Regions from separate parts of the Homo sapiens genome. Here region 2 is linked to region 1. The links come from fine-mapping of genetic effects on gene expression. A gene starts in region 1. The other region holds a variant in brackets. All regions are shown on one strand. Distances are from middle to middle. Region 1 holds the start of LINC03034 (long intergenic non-protein coding RNA 3034). Region 2 has its middle 22 kb from the start of LINC03034.

What was found. PIP is the estimated chance that this variant, and not a neighbour inherited with it, causes the effect.
Region 2: its variant is fine-mapped to the expression of LINC03034 in lung (TOPMed, PIP 0.97).

The regions. Positions count from the first base shown.
Region 1 is chr15:31,229,379-31,232,290 of GRCh38, reverse strand. It overlaps LINC03034 (long intergenic non-protein coding RNA 3034), which reads left to right and starts at 1,429. Exons shown (of 4, transcript NR_171016.1): 1 at 1,429-1,584.
Region 2 is chr15:31,251,116-31,254,027 of GRCh38, reverse strand. No RefSeq gene overlaps it. Among named protein-coding and RNA genes, the nearest start is that of LINC03034, 22 kb to the right of the region's middle. The variant C/T (reference allele first, on the strand shown) is at 1,410.

The DNA of each region.
Region 1 (2,912 bases):
CCTCCTGGGTTCAAGTGATTCTCCTGTCTCAGCCTCCCGAGTAGCTGGACTACAGGCATGCGCCACCATGCCCAGCTAATTTTTGTATTTTAAGTAGAGACAGGGTTTCACCATGTTGGCCAGGCTGGTCTCGAACTCCTGACCTCTGGTGATCTGCCCGCCTCAGCCTCCCAAAGTGTTGGGATTACAGGTGTGAGCCACCACACCCAGCCTAGAATGCCATTCTTGTTTCCTGGATGCAATCTCCTCTATCAGCTCCCAAGAATGTGACTGACAGGGGCTTCATGTTGAGCTTTGCTCTGCCCCTTCCCTCTGCTTCCTCTGAGTGCCTCTTCCCTATGTGTTGCTGGTTGTGCTCCATGTTGGCTGCTTCACTCCTGTGTTCAGTGACCGTGGGCAGTTGGTTCATCTCCAAGGGCACAGCCCTGAAGAGCTCACTGAAGACTTCTTGCTGGCAGGGGATGGTTATAGACTGGTGGCTATAGCAGATTCTTTGTTGGGCAACCCTTACCTGCAAACATGTTTAGGTCTCCTCTCTAGGAACATATGTCCTGCCTGGTACTTGTAGGTCATGCTGCCAACTTCCTGGGAGTAGAGTCGGGAGGGGGTCTTGGGGATCTCCTCAGTGTAGGTGAAGTCTTTCTTCTTATACCTCGACCCCTTTTTAGTCCAGAACCCCACCCCTGCCTTCTGCTGTCCTTCAGCCCCTGAGCCTAGAGCCTCCTTTCTACAATTTCCCCAAAGAACAAACTTCCAGGCTTGTCTGAGGCATGCTGTGGAAGGAACCTGGGATCTCAATGGCTTCCCAGACAGAGTGCTGATCAAGCCCCCTGGTTTGGCCTCCACTGCCCCTGCCCCATGGCCTCTGTAGTGCCAGCTGTCTCCACTTGCCCAGGCTTCTGGGTGGGACCAAATGAATGGCCTTGATTATTAGCAGCATCGTCCCTCCTTGCCTTCACCTGTCCTTGGGTCCTAGCTTTGTCCCATCTGTTCCCCTCACTCACATCTCAGTCTACCTATCAAGAAAATGGGGATAACAGTGGTTCCCATCTCCTGGGATTGCTGTGAAGAAGAAATGAGCTCAGGGTGGTGTCATCATCACCAAGATGGAAATAACCTGGGCAGCCCCTCGGGCAAGCTCTGTCCCCAGTGTGTGTTCTGTTCTGCTCACACAGACCCAGAAAGAGGAGCCAGCCAGGTGACAGTATGAAACACACATGTTGAGTGTGCAGAGCCGGGAACTCTGTTCCTTGCACGTGCTCCAGGCCCTGCCAATGGTGCATGACCAGTCACCAGCCAAGCATGGCGCTGAGAACGTATGTGGCCTCCCTGAGGCTTTGCTCAGTCCCCTCCCTCCACACCCACAGAAAGAGGTGTGCACACATGCAAAATAGCAATAATAATAGTATGAGATGGCAGCTGAGACCTGTGCAGCTGATGACAGTTTGAAAGAAGGATGAGCAGGCTCTCTGCCATCTGCCCACCAACTTTTCAAGTTACTTTTACCCACCTTCAAAATTACATCTGCTTTTAGCAAGAATTACTGATGTGATAAAGATGGGAGTGTTCACCATGCAAGGGCAGGTAAGTTGCTCTGTGCCACTGGGGGTTTAACCCTTAAAAGGAGAGGGGTCTCCCTTCAGCTGCTGCAGGATCCTGGTAGAAGGGGGCACAGATGACATGAAAACCCAGGGAGCCATGCCTGCTGCTGGGATCCGGGCTCACCCACCTCGTGCCCCTACCCAAAACTGTCGGGACACGAAGCCTTGCCGGGAGCCTCGAATGCCCAGGGGCTTGGCCAGGCCACAGACTGTGCGGGGAATGTGTGCACACTGCCCACTTTATCCCATGGCTGTGCCCGCCATAGGTTATGCAGCAGCAGTGGGCACGCGCAATTCAGTTGAATTCAGGGAAGCCAGCAAGTGCTAGGGAATTTCGATGGATGACCTAAGCATGGTCAGGTGTCTATTTAGAAAAATATACACGGCCAGGCGCGGTGGCTCATGCCTGTAATCCCAGCACTTTGGGAGGCCGAGGTGGGTGGATCACAAGGTCAAGAGATCTAGACCATCCTGGGCAACATGGTGAAACCCCGTCTCTACTAAAAATACAAAAATTAGCTGGGTTTGGTGGCGCACGTGTGTAATCCCAGCTACTCATGAGGCTGAGAAAGGAGAATCGCTTGAACCCGGGAGGCAGAGGTTGCAGTGAGCTGAGATGGCACCACTGCACTCCAGCCTAGTGACAGAGCGAGACTCCGTCTCAAAAAAAAAAAAAAGAAAAGAAAAATATACACTTAGGAGGGCGAGGCAGGCAGATCACTTGAGGTCAGGAGTTCGAGACCAGCCTGGCCAACATGGTGAAACCCTGCCTGTCTCTACTAAATATACAAAAATTAGCTGGGTGTGGTGGCGCACACCTGTAGTTCCAGCTACTCAGGAGGCTGAGGCAGGAGAATCGCTTGAACCCGGGAGACGGAGGGTCCAGTGAGCAAAGATTGCACCGCTGCACTCCAGCCTGGGCAACAGAGCAAGACTCTGTATCCAAAAAAACAAAAACAAAAACAAAACAAAAAAACAAAAAAGCAAAACAAAAAAAAAAAACCACTTAATGTACATGATGTGGTAGAAGAAAAGCACTTATTAGTGAGAATTGCCGCCTCCTCCTAAGAAGAGTGTCCCCTACTGCAGGGTGCTTTGCTTCTTAATCAGGCTCAGGAGGGAGGGTCTGAGGCCATTGAGACCATGCCTGGAACAAGGAGGCAGACAGCCAGGCTGGTGACTACAGAGTGCCACGCACACACAGGGGGTGGAGCCAGCACCTCTGTGCTCCACCTATGAAGTGGCCGGCAGTCCTTCCCAGGAGGGTGTGAGCTGAGGTCTCCTGGGTACACCAGCCAGCCCACGGCACAG
Region 2 (2,912 bases), 22 kb before region 1:
GCATAATTTTATTATATATATTTTATTATACAATTTTAAAGTTAGTATGTTTGCTTAAAATATTTAATATATAACACTCATTGGCAAATGACAAAAGAAATCCCCCTGCAAAATAGCATTTTATTAAATGCTTTATTTATTTATTTATTTATTTTTTGAGACAGAGTCTTGCTGTGTCGCCCAGGCTGGAGTGCAGTGCCGTGATCTTGGCTCACTGCAACCTCTGTCTCCCAGGTTCAAGTGATTCTCCTGCCTCAGCCTCCTGAGTAGCTGGGACTATAGAAGCGAGCCACCATGACTGGCTAATTTTTGTATTTTTAGTAGAGACAAGGTTTCACCATGCTGGCCAGGCTGGTTTTGAACTCCTGACCTCATGATCTGCTCACCTTGGCCTCCCAAAGTGCTGGGATTACAGGCATGAGACACTGCATCCGGCCTAAATGCTTTATTATTTATTAAAACATTGGAGGATAAGTGCAGTGGCTCATGCCTGTAATCCCAGCACTTTGGAAGGCTGAGGTGGATAGCTTAAAGCCAGAAGTTTAAGACCATCCTGGGCAACATAGTGAGACCCCCCATCACCCCCCGCAAAAAAAAAGCCTGGGTGTTGTGGCTCACACCTGTAATTCCAGCACTTTGGGAGGTTGAGGCAGGCAGATCACCTGTCAGGAATTCGAGGCCAGCCTGGCTAACATGGCAAAACCCTGTCTCTACTAAAAATACAAAAATTAACCAGGTGTGGTGGTACATGCCTATAATCCCAGCTACTTGGGAGACTGAGGCACGAGAATCGCTTGAACCTGGGAGGTGGAGGTTTCAGTGAGCCGACATTGCACCATTGCACTCCAGCCTGGGCAACAAGAGTAAAACTCAGTGTAAAAAAAAAAAAAAGGAAAAAAAGAAAAATAAAAATTTTGGAATAGCTCTTCATAGGAAAGTTATCTCTTACTCTGAGTTCATAGTACTTGTGAGTCTAAAAATTTTTTGATTTTCCTGAAAAAGAAGAAAATAATTCTGGCTTAAGTTAGCATCTGGACTCTTCACAGATTTAGGTGGAAAAGCTAGAGGATTCACATTGAACATTGTATTTTGTAAGCCCCCAGCTTTGACCCTACCATGGTAGAGAGTTGCTAATGATTTCTCTTGGTGAAATCTAAGCTTTAACAACATTTCTAAGTCGCTGATGTATCTGAACCCATAAATATCTTTGGAGAAATGACAATGACAACATTTTGCATGATTTCTTTCATTCATTTGTGTATTAAAATAATTATCAAGCAGCTATTATATGCTAGGCAGAGCGCAAGGTACTGGGAATAAAAGAAATGACTATGACAAGATTACTGTCCTCCAGGAGCTGTGAGTTATTTGCAGATAGACACACGCTGTGCGAGAGAACAACCCCTAAA[C/T]GTAAGTAACTATTTTTTCCACACTATCATTTCTCTACATACTATTCATTAGAAGTGAGTCACTAAGTACAGCCCACACTCATGGAGAGGAGATTTGATGGGAAGAATAGCAAAGCATTTGTGGACTATTTTAAAACCATCACAATGGGGATGGGGGACCAAACACGGGGCCAGCTAACAGCTGGTGGGTCCTGATCCATCACTAATAAGCTCTGTGATCCTAATTGATTAGCTAACTCCCCGGGCTCAGTCTCTCTCGTGCAGTCTGGAGATGATGCTACTATATCTGTCACAGGGCCAGTTGTTCAACACAGCAGGGAGGCAGATAGCAATTGAGTCAAGGGCGTGAGCTTTGGAATCAAATCCCTGCCCCCACCACTTCAAGTCTCTGAGCCTCAGTTTCCTCATCTGTATCATTACCTACATGCCAGGTTTGTGGAGAAATAACTTGAGGCAAGTATGTGTAGAGAATTGGTCTTGAGTGAGTCTAAACTGAGCCAGCCCAGAGACATCTATTTGCTGGAGAAGACAAGGGGTGTTGAGAAGGCATTTTGCATGTAACGCGACCAGTGGAAGAACATGCTGGAGGAGACCTTCGCCCCATCACCTGCAGGTTCTTGTGACCCCACAGGAAGCCAGCCTCCGCCTTCATCATTTTCCCCAGCTGGGCTGCCTTCTGGGAACATGACCAAAATTTTGGATCTGGGGGAAGAATTCAGCTGCTCCTAGGACTAAAAGCATTATCCCCAGACTGAAGCCAAAGGCACCCTTCACTATGATCTCTCACTGTTTGGAGATACATGCAAACAAATGTGGTCATATGGCCCTGCTCAAACCCTGGTGGCTTGGAACACTCTGGAAGCCACCTTTCGGAGTGCACATGGGGCACATGGAGACTGGAGTCCCAGCTTTGAGGAGAATGCTCAGCTCAGGACTGGGTGCTCCAGGCTCAGAATCAAACTTTTGTGAAGTCCAAAATCAGTTTTAACCCATGATTTCTGGGCACCTATCTCTGAGGATCTTCAAGTTTTTCTGGAAGGCGAGTAGCATGTCAGTGGCAGGATGTTCTATTAGGGGCTCTAATAAGTTCTAGCGATCCTGTTCCTCTGGGAGCCAGCTCTGGGTCTAGGGGCTTACTCTGAAGCAGGCTCTGTAATGCAGGGTGCTGCTGGAAACTGGAAATATGCAAGAAACTGCCTGCAAGGATGTGCAGTTGCACGCACAGCGACTTGGGCAAGTCCCCACTGGAGAGGCTCGACCCTCTGGTAACCCACGGGACCTGATTTTACCTTCCTATGGGGAGTGTTTGACAGAAGGGCTGCTTGTCCATTGCGCTGAGCAAGTCCTCCAAGGTCTGCAGGCCCCTTCCCAGGCAAGGCTGCATGCCTGAGACAAGGGAAAAGAACATGGAACAGCCAAAGACTTCCTCTCCGCCTTGAAATCATGCATTTTTGCTTTTTTTGTTTCTAAAACAGAATGGAGAGAAGCCCACGTCTCAAGACC